Linked DNA regions of Homo sapiens. The protein of the gene in region 2 purifies or fractionates together with the protein of the main gene of each other region. This does not show direct contact. Each region holds a gene or a part of one and is shown on either strand. Other genes may lie near its edges.

Evidence for each region. The genes of interacting proteins can lie anywhere in the genome.
Region 1: the proteins of ZNF562 (region 2) and KNG1 purify together in Homo sapiens (affinity purification with mass spectrometry; 3 studies listed by BioGRID and IntAct, with this or other methods). This does not show direct contact.
Region 3: the proteins of ZNF562 (region 2) and NPW purify together in Homo sapiens (affinity purification with mass spectrometry; one large-scale study listed by BioGRID and IntAct). This does not show direct contact.

The regions. Positions count from the first base shown.
Region 1 is NC_000003.12:186,719,438-186,724,459, reverse strand, and holds part of KNG1 (kininogen-1 isoform 1 precursor), read right to left. Parts: intron 4,356-5,022; coding exon 4,245-4,355; intron 2,024-4,244; coding exon 1,939-2,023; intron 1-1,938. UniProt on the Homo sapiens protein: Kininogens are inhibitors of thiol proteases.
Region 2 is NC_000019.10:9,667,652-9,672,913, forward strand, and holds part of ZNF562 (zinc finger protein 562), read right to left. Parts: intron 1-5,262. UniProt on the Homo sapiens protein: May be involved in transcriptional regulation.
Region 3 is NC_000016.10:2,017,513-2,021,856, forward strand, and holds NPW (neuropeptide W preproprotein), read left to right. Parts: upstream 1-2,272; 5' UTR 2,273-2,389; coding exon 2,390-2,800; intron 2,801-3,020; coding exon 3,021-3,107; 3' UTR 3,108-3,243; downstream 3,244-4,344. UniProt on the Homo sapiens protein: Plays a regulatory role in the organization of neuroendocrine signals accessing the anterior pituitary gland. Stimulates water drinking and food intake. May play a role in the hypothalamic response to stress.

The DNA of each region.
Region 1 (5,022 bases), on a different chromosome or scaffold from region 2:
ATCATCTTACCCCAGTTAGAATGGCTATTATTAAAAAGAGTTTGTATTAAATTATCAAGTAATGTTCATAACAGATAGCCCTAACCTACTGGTCAATAGAGGCAAAGTCCATAAAAAGGGAACGTAGCTGCAGAGTGAGTGGCACACCTGGAGGGACCCCCTGGGAGCCTGGACTTCTTCACCACAGAGCTCTCGCTGCCTGCCATGTAAGCGGTAAACACAGCCAGGAGGATATGGAGAAAAGAGAACTCTAATGCACTGTTGGTAAGAATGTAAATTAGTGCAACCACTATGGAAAATAGTGCGGAGATTCCTCAAAAAATGAAAACACCAAATACCATATATCCAGTAGTCCAGCTACTGGGCATCTACCCAGAGGAAAGTAAATCAGCCTATCAAAGGGGTACTTCCACTCCCAGGTTTGTTGCAGCAGTATTCACAATAGCAAAGATATGAAATCAACTTAAATGTCCATCAAAAGGTGAATGAATAAAGAAAATGTGGGGGACCAGGCACAGTGGCTCACACCTGTAATCCCAGCACTTTGGGAGGCCGAGGCGGGTGGATCACCTGAGGTCAGGAGTTCGAGACCAGCCTGGCCAACATGGTGAAACCCCATCTCTACTAAAAACACAAAAATTATCCGGGCGTGGTGGCGATGCCCATAATCCCAGCTATTCAGGAGGCTGAGGCTGAGGCTGGAGAATTGCTTGAACCCGGGAGGTTGCAGTGAGCCTAGATCGTGCCACTGCACCCCAGCCTGGGCGACAGTGCGAGACTCTGTCTCAAAATGAAAAAAAAAAAGAAAGAAATTGTGGTATATACTCACAATGAAATAGTATTTGGCCGTAAACAAAGAATTGAAATCATATCATTTAAAGCCACATGGACAGAACTAGAGGTCGTTAAGTGAAACAACTCAAGCACAGAAAGACAAACTTCACATTGTTCTCACTCACATGTGGAAGCTAAAACCATCACATGGAGATAGAGAAGAGAAGAGAATGACAGATACCAGAGGCTGAGCGGGGTAAGCGGGTAGAAGGGGGAAATGAAGAGGTTGGTGAATAGGTACTGAATTATAGTTAGATAGAAGAAATACGTTCTAATGTTACATAGCAGACTAGAGTGTCTATAGTTAGCAACAATATATTGTATATTTCAAAGTAGCTAAAAGAGAGGACTTGAAATATTACCAATTCATAGAAATGATAACTATTCCAGGTGATGGATACCCCAAATACCCTGACTTAATCATTACACGTTCAATGCATGTAAAAAACACTCACATGTACCTCATAAATATGTAAAATATTATGTATCAGTAAAAGAAAAAAAGAAAAAGAAGATAATACATGTAAGGTGCTTTGAGTCATGGCTGGGACATAAGGACTCAATATATCTTAGCTATTACTTTTATCCTGATTGTTGCTAATATGTTATTATGATTAATATGTTAGTATGTTATTATGATTGTACCTCCAGGCATATCATCTCATTTCAGCCTCACAACAGTCCTGTGAAGTGGGAAGTACTCTTACCTCCCTTTTCTAGACAAGGAAAAGGAGAGGCAAGAAGGCAAGGAGCTCTGAAAGATTCCAGGCCAGGTCTGCCCTCAAAGCCTATGCGCTCCTCAATCTGGGATGCTGCCTGCAATGGAGGGCAGGTCTTATGTCTTCTGGTCCTTCTGTTGAGCCCTTGCACACACTGGGTACAATGCAGCACACGGGAAGAGTTGGGATAGTCCTAAGGGGATGATGGTCACAAGCCTGGCTCAACCTCCGGGCTCTGCCGCTCCACCCAATGCTCCCTAACTCTGCAAATGGCTTTACTACTGCCACCCTCTGGGAGCAAGCAGAGCCTGGTCAAGATTGTGTTCCTGGCTCACAGAAATGGTTAATTTCCCACCAGGGCAGTGCCAGAGGATAAACCAGCCACCTGGAGTAATCTGGCAGGTCTGGGTAGCCACGGAGAATTTCGTACTGCTCCTCTTCCCCACGGTTGCCGTGCATTCTCCAGTGGCCTAAAAAGAAAAGAAAGAGATCATTTATCTTAATCTTTCAGATGGGAAAGTCTACCTAATACTGTTGCTAAATGTGGCTTTCCTTAAAAAGCAAAACAAAACAAAACTTGTGAAGATTTTACCAAAAGAGTTTTGAGACATGAGAATAAATTTTTTTAATAGCCTAATGATTACTTTATATAAGCCACTGATATTCATGAGATGCTGGAGGAAAGACAGTGTAAATGATGAGGTTTTAAAGCTTGAGTCTTTGTTTTGAGCCCTGGAGGGTATTTCTTTTTTCTTTTGTTTCCTATTTTTTTTTTTTTTTTTTTTTTTTGAGACAGAGTGTTGCTTTTGTTACCCAGGCTGGAGTGCAACAGTGCGATCTCTCGGTTCACTGCAACCTCTGCCTCCCAGATTCAAGTGATTCTGCTGCCTCAGCCTCCCAAGTAGCTGGGATTACATGCACGTGCCACCACACCCAGCTAATTTTGTATTTTTGGTAGAGACAGGGTTTCACTACGTTGGTCAGGCTGGTCTCAAACTCCTGACCTCAAATGATCCAATCACCTCGGCCTCCCAAAGTGTTACGATTACAGGTGTGAGCCACTGCACCTGGCTGAGCTCTGGAGCTATTTCTTTCTAACCAAGATGGACGCAGAGGTCTAGAACCAGCCTGCTAAACACTCCTCTTATCTACCACTCAACTTCAGTGAGTTAATACTGTTCACATAAACTTCAGTTTAACTTAATAGAAAGGGCAAGGACCTTGGCATCAAAATGTTATTCAGTTCCAGCCTTGTCACTTGCTAGCTGTTAACTCTGTCATGTCCCCTTGACTCTTGGAGTCTCAGTTTACCCGTCTTGTAGAAGATGGGATACATCTATCTCTTAGAGTTGTTGTGAACAGTATGTGTGCAAACACACACAAAATGCCTACTAGAGGCCCGCCACACAGCAGGCACTTAATAATAGGCAGCTGTTTAATTGTTATTGTTGAACAGTGTTTTTGTTTTGTTTTGTCTTTTCATTCTTCAGTCATATCCATTGGATTCTAAGTGACAGATACTATTCCATCAGGATAAAGCACACCTCCCTTTGTCCACACAGCCCCTAGAAGCAGGCAGTACAGAGCACAGCAGCTACTTATCCCCACCTTACAGATGAGATGACTGAGAAGGGAGAACCAGCACTGCAAAATCCTAGACTCCTGACTTGGAGTTCAGTACTCTTTGGTAATGGCAGATGACTGGCAGTCATCTTTTATGTTCTGACATAAAAGAAGGGAATCAATCCATGAAAAGAGAGGCTTGCTTCTGAGGCAGATACTGTCTGAAATCTTTCTTAATTAAAGCAAAACAACCATGGCTGGGCGTGGTGGCTCACGCCTGTAATCCCAGCACTTTGAGAGGCTGAGGCAGGCAGATCACCAGGTCAGGAGATTGAGACCATCCTGGCTAACACGGTGAAACCCGGTCTCTACTAAAAACACAAAAAATTAGCCAGGCGTGGTGGTGGGTGCCTGTAGTCCCAGCTACTCAGGAGGCTGAGGCAGGACAATGGCGTGAACCTGGAAGGCAGAGCTTGCAGTGAGCCGAGATCGCGCCACTGCACTCCAGCCTGAGCGACAGAGCGAGACTCTGGCTCAAAAAAAAAAAAAAAAAAAAAAAGCAAAACAACAACCAGCTATGGTGTGCCAGGCCTATATGTTAGGCATTTGGTTAAGATAGCCATTGTTATCAAAGTTATTTGCATAATTCATCTGATTTCATCCTCCAACAACCTGATGAGGTCAATATTATCTCCCATATACAGCAGAAAGTGCCAGTTCTGAGAGGTCACAGCTCCCCCGCTATCACACAGCTAATGGAAGGCAGAGTCAAGATTTGCACTTAACGTTGTGCAATGGAAGCACCCACCCCCTCCCCTCGCCAGCTCTTTGGCTTGGCCCAAATGTCAATTTGTTATCTCTCTGGAGTCTGAGCCACATGTTCTGGCTGGACACTAGAGCCCCCTTCTCATGGAAAGGCTTTCTCCATGTTTAACTGCTGGCTTCTCCATGATTTTTCTGTCTATACAAGAACACAGATATAAAGCATCTGACTTTTCTACACATTGGAATGTTTATTTGCATTTCTCATAAACAGGCTCACCAGTAGCCATCATTTCTGCATCAGTAAAAAAATCTGGCAGGGTCAACGGAGAAAACAGAAGGCCCAAGAATGGCCAATACACTTACTGCTTTTGCAGCATCCTTGTACTCACAGTCCTGCCAGGTTTTGCCACTTTGAACAGGACAATCCCCCTCCTTGATTTCGTACTTGAAGGAATAAAACGTGTCAGAGCCAACCTGAAAAGCAGCCAAAGATACTTAGGGTTCATCCAACTGACCCAACAGCAAATAATTCTAGTGGGTTCCGGTAAAGTTAGGAATATTGATCTTTGACTTGAGAGCAAAGCATTCACTTAAAATATATTTATATTTCTATCATAAACATTTATGTGAAAGAATGTTTATAATATATTCACAATGTACTTTTAAAGGTTACAAAGCAGTATGCATAGTATTAGCCCATTTTTGTCAAAACTGGTTTATATATAAATCTATGTCTTTTAAAAGTCTGGAAAGATACACAGCAAGCTGTTAAAATGTTTGTCTGTCAGTGGTGAGATTATAATTATCTTTCACTTTCTTCTTCAAGCAAACATTTCTTTTTTTTTTTTTTGAGATGGAGTCTCGCTCTGTCGCCCAGGCTGGAGTGCAGTGGCGTGATCTCGGCTCACTGCAAGCTCTGCCTCCCGGGTTCACGCCATTCTCCTGCCTCAGCCTCCAGAGTAGCTGGGACTACAGGCGCCCTCCACCACGCCTGGCTACTTTTTTGTATTTTTTAGTAGAGACTGAGTTTCACCATGGTCTCGATCTCCTGACTTCGTGATCCCCCCGCCTTGGCCTCCCAAAGTGCTGGGATTACAGGCATGAGCCACCGCGCCCGGCCCAAGCAAACATTTCTAAGTGG
Region 2 (5,262 bases):
GTGATCATAGCTCACTGCAGCCTTGGTCTCCTGGGCTCAAGTGATACTCCTGCCTCAGCCTCCCGAGTAGCTAGAACCACAGGCATGTGTGACAATGCTAACTTTTTTTTTTTTTAGAGACTGGGGGCAGAGGGGTCCTCAATATATTACCCAGGCTGACCTTGAACTCCTGATTTCAAGTGATCCTCTTGCTTTGGCCTCCTAAAGTGCTGGGATTACAGGCATGAGCCACCATGCTCAGCTGACATAATCATATTTAGAAAAACCTAAAGACTCTACCAAAAACCTGTTAGAACTGATAAATGAATTCAGTAAATGTTCAGGACACAAAATCAACATACAAAAATCAGTTGCATTTATATACGCCAACGGTGAACAATCTGAAAAAGAAATCAAGGAAGTAATCACATTTACAATAGCTGCAAAGACTATAAAATGCCAGCACCAGGCATGATGACTCACAATTGTAATCCCAGAATTTTGGGAGGCTGAGGTGGAAGGATTGCTTAAGCCCAACAGTTCAAGACCAGCCTGGGCAACATGGCACGGCTCAGTCTCAATTAAAAAAAAGAAATTAGCCAGGCATGATGGCACACACCTGTAGTCCCAGCTACTCAAAAGAGACTGAGGCAGGAGGATTCCTTGAGCCCAGGAGTTCAAGGCTGCTGCATGAGCTACAACTGCACCACTGTACTCCAGCCTGGGCAACAAAGTGAGACCCCACCTCTGAAAAAAAGAGAAAATAAAAAGTAACCAAAAATGTGAAGGAGCTATACAAGGAAAACTATAAAACACTGATGAAACAAACTGTAGAGAATACAGAAAAAAAATGGAAAGACATTCCATGCTCATGGATTAGAAGAATATTGTTAAAATGACAATACTACCCAAAGCAATTTACAATTAAGAGCAACCGTTATCAAAATAGCAATGACATTCATCGCAAAAATAGAAAAAAAATCCTAAAATTTATATGCAACAATAAAAGACTTCAAACAGCCAAAGAAATACTGAACAAAAAGAACAAAGCTGGAATCATCACACTGCCTTACTTCAAAATATACTACAAAGCTATCATAACCAAATCAGCATGGTACTGACATAAAAAAAACAAACAAACACATAGATCAATGGAAGAGAACAAAGAACCTAAATACAAATCTACACATGTACAGACAGCTCATTTTCAACAAAGGCACCAAAAGCATACAATGGGAAAATAACAGTCTTTTCAATAAATGCTGCTGGGAAAACTGGATAACCATATGCAGAATAAAACTAGATGCCATCTCTCAGCATAAAAAAAAAAAGTCAAAACAGATTAAAGACTTACATCTAACACCTGAAACTATAAAACTAGTAGAGGAAGACCCTTGGGAAACAATCCAGGGCATTGGTCTGGGTAAAGATTTCTTGGGAAGATCTCAAAAGCACAGGCAACAAGAGCAAAAACAAACATATGAGATTACATCAAGCTAAAAAGCTTCTCCACAGCAAAAGAAACAATCAACAAAGTGAAGAAACAATCTACAGTATGGGAGAAAATATTTACAAACTATCCACCTGGGATTAATAATCAGAATATATAAGGAACTCAAACTTGATAACAAAAAAAATCCGATAAAAAAATCAGCAAAAGGTCAGAATAGATGTTTCTCAAAAAAAAGACATACAAATGGCCAACAGGCATACAAAAAAATGCTCAACATCACTAATCATCAGAGAAATACAAATCACACATAACCACAATGAGATATCATCTCACCTCATTTAGAGTGGCTTTTATAAAAAAGACAGGGAATAACAAATGCTGATGAGGATATGGTGAAAAGATAATCCTTGTATGCAGTTGGTGGGAATATAAATTAGTACAGCCACTGTAGAGAACAATATTCAGGTGTGGTGGCTCAGGCCTTTAATCCCAAAACTTGAGGCTGCGGTGGGAGATCACTTGAGCCCAGGAGTTCCAGACCAGGCTAGGCAACACAGCAACACCTGTCTGTACACACATGCACGCACAAAACCTGTCTGAAACTGGCAAGACCTGTCTGCATGCACGCGCGCGAGCGCGCGCGCGCGCGCGCACACACACACACACACACACACACACACACACACACACACAACCAGTCAGGGACAGTAGCTCATGCCTGTAATCCCAGCTCTTTAGGAGGCCAAGGCAGGCAGATCATTTGAGGTCAGGAGTTTGAGACCAGCCTGGTCAACATGGTGAAACTCTGTCTCTACTGAAAATACAAAAATTAGCTGGGCATGGTGGCGTGCACCTGTAGTCCCAGCTACTCCAGAGGCTGAGGTAAGAGAATTGCTTGAACCCAGGAGGCGGACGTTGCAGTGAACCAAGATCGTGCCACTGCACCCCAGCCTGAGTGACAGAGTGAGACTCTGTCTCAAAAAATCAAAGAAACAAACAAAAAAACTTAGCCAGGTGTATTAGTGGAGGCCTGTAGTCCTGGCTACTCAGGAAGCTGAGGTGGGAGGATCACCTGAGCCCAGGAAGTCAAGGCTGCAGTGAGCCATGATTATGCCATGGCACTCTAGCCTGGGTGACACAGCAAGACTATCTCAAAAAAAACAAAACAAAACAAAAAAAACAGTATGGGGGTTTCTCAAAAAATTAAAAATAGAACTACCATATGATCTGGAATCCCATTGGGTATATATCCAAAAGAAAGGAAATCAATATATTTGAAAAGATATATATACATTCCCTTGTTTACCGCAGCACTACTCATAATAGCCAAAATATGGAATCAACCTAAGTGTCTAACAATGAAAGAATGAATAAAGAAAATATGGTATATATAGACAGCAGATTATTATTCAGCCATAAAGAGAATGGAATTCTGTCATTTGCAGCAACTGGATAGAACTGGAGGTCATCATGGAAGTGAAATAAGCCAAGCACAGCAGACAAATACCCCATATTCTCACATGTGGGAGCTAAAAAGTGGATCTCATGAGCATAGAGTACAGATTGATGGTTACTAGAGGCCAGAAGGGTAGGAAGGAGACGGAGATAAAGAGAGGTTGATTAGGCTGAGTGAGGTGGCTCATGCCTGTAATCCCAGCACTTTAGGAGGCCAAGGCGGGCAGATCACCCTGATTATGTGAGATCAGGAGTTCGAGACCAACCTGTCCAATATGGTAAAACCCCGTCTCTACTAAAACTACAAAAATTAGCCGGGTGTGGTGGTGCACCCCTTAATCCTAGCTACTCGGGAGGCTGAGGCAGGAGAATCACTTGAATCCGGGAGGAGGCAGAGGTTGCAGTGAGCCAAGATCATGCCACTGCATTCTAGCCTGGGTGACGGTGAGACTCCATCTCCCAAAAAAAAAAAAAAAAGAGGTTGATTCATCGGTAAAATATACAGTTAGAAGAAATAAGAACTGGTATTCAATAGATCAGTAGGGTGACTACACTTAATACGCATCTATCATACATTTCAACACAGCTAAGAGAATAACGATGTTCCTACAATATAGAAAAGATAAATATTTAAGGTGACAGGTATGCTACTTACCCTGATTATGTGAATGTATCAAATTATCACATGTACTCTGAAAATATGTTCATCTATTATGAATCAAAAAAATTTTTCTGGATTGTAAAATAGGGAGTGGGAGATTCTGGGGCCACCATGTCTGTGGGTAAAGATATTCCCTTGTCTGGATCATGTAAAGACATCCCTCCAAGATGTCACTCCAAGTTACTGCACCTAATACCACCTACCATTAACAAGGAGCAATGAGCCATGATTATGCCATTGCTCTCCAGCCTGGGTGATCCAGCAAGACTTTGTCTCAAAAAAAGAAAAAAAACCCAGCATGGAGGTTTCTCAAAAACTACCATCCATAGACCTCTTGAATTTTGGAGGCAACACATACATTTGCATGTACTTTAACGCCCCACACAGTTACCTGTAAGGATTCTAGTTTCAACTGTAGACAAGAGCAATTTCAGGCTGCAATGCAAGCTTCCTAAGCACTTGGTCCACCTGATCCAGCAGACCCAGTGATACTCAACGTGTCCATGTTAAATGGCATGTTATTTATTGGAAGCCTCCGGCATGCACCAACAGAAGATGTAGAGTACAGCCCTCTGGTATTGCAGAGTCAATCCATGCCCTCTTGTGCAGATTAACTGTTTTTCTCTTGAGAAACAGGTTGTGGTTTGCCACTAGCACATGACAGAGAATGAACAACTAGTCATGGGACATGAAGTAACTAAGGCTGAACTGAGTAATTTGAGACTTTCTGGTCCCCAAAGCATGAAGTACATACTGTCACCCATTATCAAACAACTGTTGTCAGCCTCTCCTCTGGACCCAATTCCAAGTTTGTAGGAAATCGCATGAAATAAAGGAATATTTACACACACCATGAGAATCCAATCAGAAATATCTGATTGTATGACTTTCTAAGAGAATGAGTGTGACTCTCTGAAAGTCAATATAATGGACAGTAATAACTGTTATAGGCAAAAAGACACTGAAGACACTGACAATTGCAATGCAAAAATCTTGAATGGATCTTAGATCCAAAAACACCCAAGAGCATACGTTGAATCAATGAGGAGAATTTTAGTTATTACGGAAAGTAGACATTAGATGACATTATTATTTTTAATTTAAGTGAAATACTAGTATTGTGGTTTTAGTATGACAATGCCTATTTTTAGGAGGTGCATTACAAAGTATTTAAAGGTCAAGCATCACATGTACAATTTATGCTCAATTTACACTCAAATTGTTCACTGTAAGATTTACATGAGGAGAAAGAAATAAAATGCTAAAAAATTAAGTAAATCTACTAGACTGGGTGTGTTAGATGTTCAAGTTTTCCTTAGGATCAAATTTTTCAGAAAAAAATGTAAAAACTACACTTAGTCCAAACATGCTCTTAATAAATTATACAGATACTAGATATTTTATTACACTGATACTAGAATACTATTCTGATTATAATAGTAAATAATTCTAGTGTCAGTGTAATAAAGCCTCCATTCTTTCTTCCTGGTTCCTGGAGGCCTCTGTTTTGAAGCACTGTGGGGAAGTACAGACCTAAGAACTTCAGATGAAGAGAATAGTTGAGTATTATTGCCTTTCTTTTTTTTTTTTTTTTTTTTTTAGACAGTTTCGCTCTTGTCACCCAGGCTGGAGGGCAGTGGCGGGATCTCGGCTCAATGCAACCTCCGCCTCCCGGGTTAAAGTGATTCTCTTGCCTCAGCCTCCGGAGTAGCTG
Region 3 (4,344 bases), on a different chromosome or scaffold from region 2:
GATGGAGTCTCACTCTGTCACCCAGGCTGGAGTGCAATGGCACAGTCTTGGCTCACTGCAACCTCCGCCTCCGAGGACCAAGCAATTCTCCCGCCTCAGCCTCCTGAGTAGCTGGGACTACAGGCGCATGCCACCACACCCGGCTAATTTTTGTATTTTTAGTAGAGATGGGATTTCACTATGTTGGTCAGGTTGGTCTGAAATTCTTGACCTCGTGACATGCCTGCCTCGACCTCCCAAAGTGCTGAGATTACAGGCATGAGCCACTGTGCCTGGCAAGTTTTGTATTTTTAATAGAGATGGGGTTTTGCCATGTTGGCCAGGCTGGTCTTGAACTCCTGGCCTCAAGTAATCCACCTGCCTCAGCCTCCTGAAGTGCTGGGATTACAGGCATGAGCCACTGTGCCCAGCCTGCCCCCAGCCTTTCTGTGCCCTTCTGGACAGGAGTACCCTGTTCCCCCAAGCTGAGGCTCTTGGGCTCAGGTGCTAGGATGTATCTCACCTCCACCATTTACCCAACATGATCTGGGGCAGGTCAGTTCTCCCTGGGCCTCAGTTTACTCGTTGGTGAGTGGAGTCAATAATAGTTCCACTCATGACATTGTCTGGAGGTCAAGATGAGATAGTTCATGATGACCCAAAACGAGATCCCTGGTGTCTGGGACCCAGGGGCTGCCCCATGACTGACATGGTTGCTGAGGGAGGGCTGGATTCACCCTTGCTGGGAGGTCAGGAAAGACTGTGTCAGGCTCTGCCCTCTGGGAGGGGGTTGTTAAGCCCAGATGGCCACAGAGGGAAATTCTGAGGGACTGTCTGGCCCTGCGCCTTTTTTTTTTTTTAAGATGCAGTTTCGGCCGGGCACAGTGGCTCACGCCTATAATCCCAGCACTTTGGGAGGCCGAGGCGGGCGGATCACAAGTCACAAGGTCAGGAGATCAAGACCATCCTGGCTAACGTGGTGAAACCCCGTCTCTACTAAAAATACAAAAAATTAGCCGGGCGTAGTGGCGGGCACCTGTAGTCTCAGCTACTCGGGAGGCTGAGGCAGGAAAATGGCGTGAACCTAGGAGGCGGAGCTTGCAGTGAGCCGAGATCGCGCCACTGCACTCCAGCCTGGGCAACAGAGCCAGAATCCGTCTCAAAAAAAAAAAAAAAGATGCAGTTTCGCTCTTGTTGCCCAGGCTGGAGTGCAATGATGCAATCTTGGCTCGCTGCAACCTCCGCCTCCCGGGTTCAAGCGATTCTCCTGCCTTAGCTTCTCAAGTAGCTGGGATTACAGGTGCCTGCCACCATACCCAGCTAATTTTTTGTGTTTTTCGTAGAGATGGGGTTTCACCACGTTGGCCAGGCTGGTCTTGAATTCATGACCTTAGGTGATCCGCCCGCCTCGGCCTCCCAAAGTGCTGGGATTACAGGTGTGAGCCACCGCGCCCGGCCAAGGATCTGGGCCATTTAAGTGGAGTCTTGAAGGATGAGTAGGTGTTAGGCACAGACGCACAGAGGCAGGCAAAGCCACAGGCTGTTGGTTTAGGCAAAAATTGAGACTGGCTGGATAAAGTGGTCTTGGGGGACCATCACCAGAGAGGAGGCGCTGGAGGTCTGCAAGGCCTTGTCCTGCCCCTCCAGGGGTAGAGGTTCCAGGAGGGGCTGACTTTTTCTCCTGGAAGCCTCACAGAACTGCAGACCCCACGGATGGCTTGGTGTTGCCAACATGAGGCTTCTAAGGCTTCTGCGGGGAGATGGGTTGGTGGGGAGAAGCTGGGGGTGGCAGTGGACAGGACAGGGTGTGGGGACAGCTTTGGGAGCTATGCTAGGCAAGGACAAGGGACAACTCTTGGGGGGACTCACCCAGAGGGGTCTTGAATGGTGCTGAAGGCCCCCGACAGCCCTCCTGCAATAGCCACTGTAGCTCTGCCTGCACCTGGGCCTTCGCTCTGCTGTCGTCCCACCGGCAGGAGTCTGGCTAAAGGGGCATCCCTCAGCCCTACTCCCTCATCAGTGTTCCCAGTACCCACTCCCTGGCACTTCCACTCCTAGAGGGAGGAGGCTGAGCAGGCAGAGAATGGGACGTGTCCCCTCAGAGGAGCCTCGAGCCCAGTTCCAGCCAGCGGCCCACTCAGTGAGGTGCTCAAGTACCCACGTCCCCCGCCAGCTGCCAGGGTTCCCTCTCCTCCCTCCGTCCCTCCCCCCATCTGGGGAGCCCAGCGGTACTGAGGGGGCGGAACGAGGCGGGGCCACCGAGCGGTTATAGCTGGGCCTGCAGGGGACCCACGGCTCGCCTCCAGCCTCCTGCGCTCCGGTACCTGGGCGTCCCAACTCCACTGCGCGCCCAAACCCAGCCGAGCCGGTTCGTGGCCCGCCCCGCCGGGCGGCCGTCGACGCGAGCGCCCTGGCGTGGCGCCCAGGGGAGCGGGGGGCTCCCGCGAGCCGGCCGCGGCTGGCACTGCTGCTGCTTCTGCTCCTGCTGCCGCTGCCCTCCGGCGCGTGGTACAAGCACGTGGCGAGTCCCCGCTACCACACGGTGGGCCGCGCCGCTGGCCTGCTCATGGGGCTGCGTCGCTCACCCTATCTGTGGCGCCGCGCGCTGCGCGCGGCCGCCGGGCCCCTGGCCAGGGACACCCTCTCCCCCGAACCCGCAGCCCGCGAGGCTCCTCTCCTGCTGCCCTCGTGGGTTCAGGAGCTGTGGGAGACGCGACGCAGGAGCTCCCAGGCAGGGATCCCCGTCCGTGCGCCCCGGAGCCCGCGCGCCCCAGAGCCTGCGCTGGAACCGGAGTCCCTGGACTTCAGCGGAGCTGGCCAGGTACGTGAGAGGGGAGAGGCCTGGACCGCCGCGGGCAAGGGGGTCTCGGGAGGTCTGAGCCGGAGCACGGAGCCGCGCGTTCAGGGGGCACCCTCGGGCCCTTCCATTCCCTGCTCCGCGCCCAGAAGAGCTTTCCCTGGGCAGGCTCGACCCTGGCACCCGGGGGCGGTGGTTGGAGGGCCACAGCCTCCTCCCCACGGCCTTGCTGTGTTCTCGTTAGAGACTTCGGAGAGACGTCTCCCGCCCAGCGGTGGACCCCGCAGCAAACCGCCTTGGCCTGCCCTGCCTGGCCCCCGGACCGTTCTGACAGCGTCCCCCGCCCGCCCGTGGCGCCTCCGCGCCTGACCCAGGAGGAGTGGCCGCGCGCTTCCAGGAGCCGCTCATAGACCCCGCCTGCCGTCCGGTCAATAAAATCCGCCTGACTCCTGCGCCCCCGCATGCGACCCCTTCGTCTGCTTGTGTACTTTGCCGTCTAGCTCAGGGCGCAGACAGGCGCGCCCACGCCCTGGCAAATGTCAGGGGCCCCTCCCTCGCCGACCAGGGGAAGCGCCGGGCACTCAGCATTCATTTCAAACCTGGATCTCCCGGCACCCCCTCCCTCCCTTAGCCAAAGGCTTCCGCAGATTGATTAAGAACCCCTGGTCCCCTTCTTCTGGGTCATGCCCCGGGAGGAGGGGCCCCTCCACCTGAGCCCCACCTTGCTTCTTGCTTTTTTTTTTTTTTTTTTTTGAGATGCAGTCTCTCTTTGTTGTCCAGGCTGGAGTGCAATGGCGCGATCTCGGGTTACTGCAACCTCCACTTCCCAGGTTCAAGCGATTCTCCCGCCTCAGCCTCCTGAGTAGCTGGGATTACAGGCACCCACCATGATGCCCAGCTAATTTTTGTATTTTTGTAGAGACAGGGTTTCACCATGTTGGACGTGCTGGTCTTGAACTCCTGACCTCAGGTGATCCGCCCACCTCAGCCTCCCTCCCAAAGTGCTGGGATTACAGGCATGAGCCACTGCCCCTGGCTGCTCCTCTGCCTTTTTTTTTTTTTTTGAGACGGAGTCTGGCTATGTCGCCCAGGCTGGAGTGCAGTGGCGCAATCTCGGCTCACTGAAAGCTCCGCCTCCCGGTTTCACGCCATTCTCCTGCCTCAGCCTCCCGAGTAGCTGGGACTACAGGCGCCCGTCACCTCGCCCAGCTAATTTTTTGTATTTTTAGTTGAGACGGGGTTTCACCATGTTAGCCACGATGGTCTCGATCACCTGACCTCGTGATCCGCCCGCCTCAGCCTCCCAAAGTGCTGGGATTACAGGTGTGAGCCACCGCACCCGGCCTGCTTCTCTGCCTTTTATCCCCCTCTGCATGCACTTCTGGTCACTGGCTCCAGCCCCCCCACATAAATGTGCCCTGCCATCTTGAACACCGAGGACCTCCATCCACCAGGCCCCCTCCAGTTCCCTTCCCAAGGGTCTGGGCCCCTCCTCCCTCCCGCTGCCTCTTCAACCCTCTCTAATCTTCCCTGGGACTCCAATGACTGTCCTGGACCCCAAACCACCA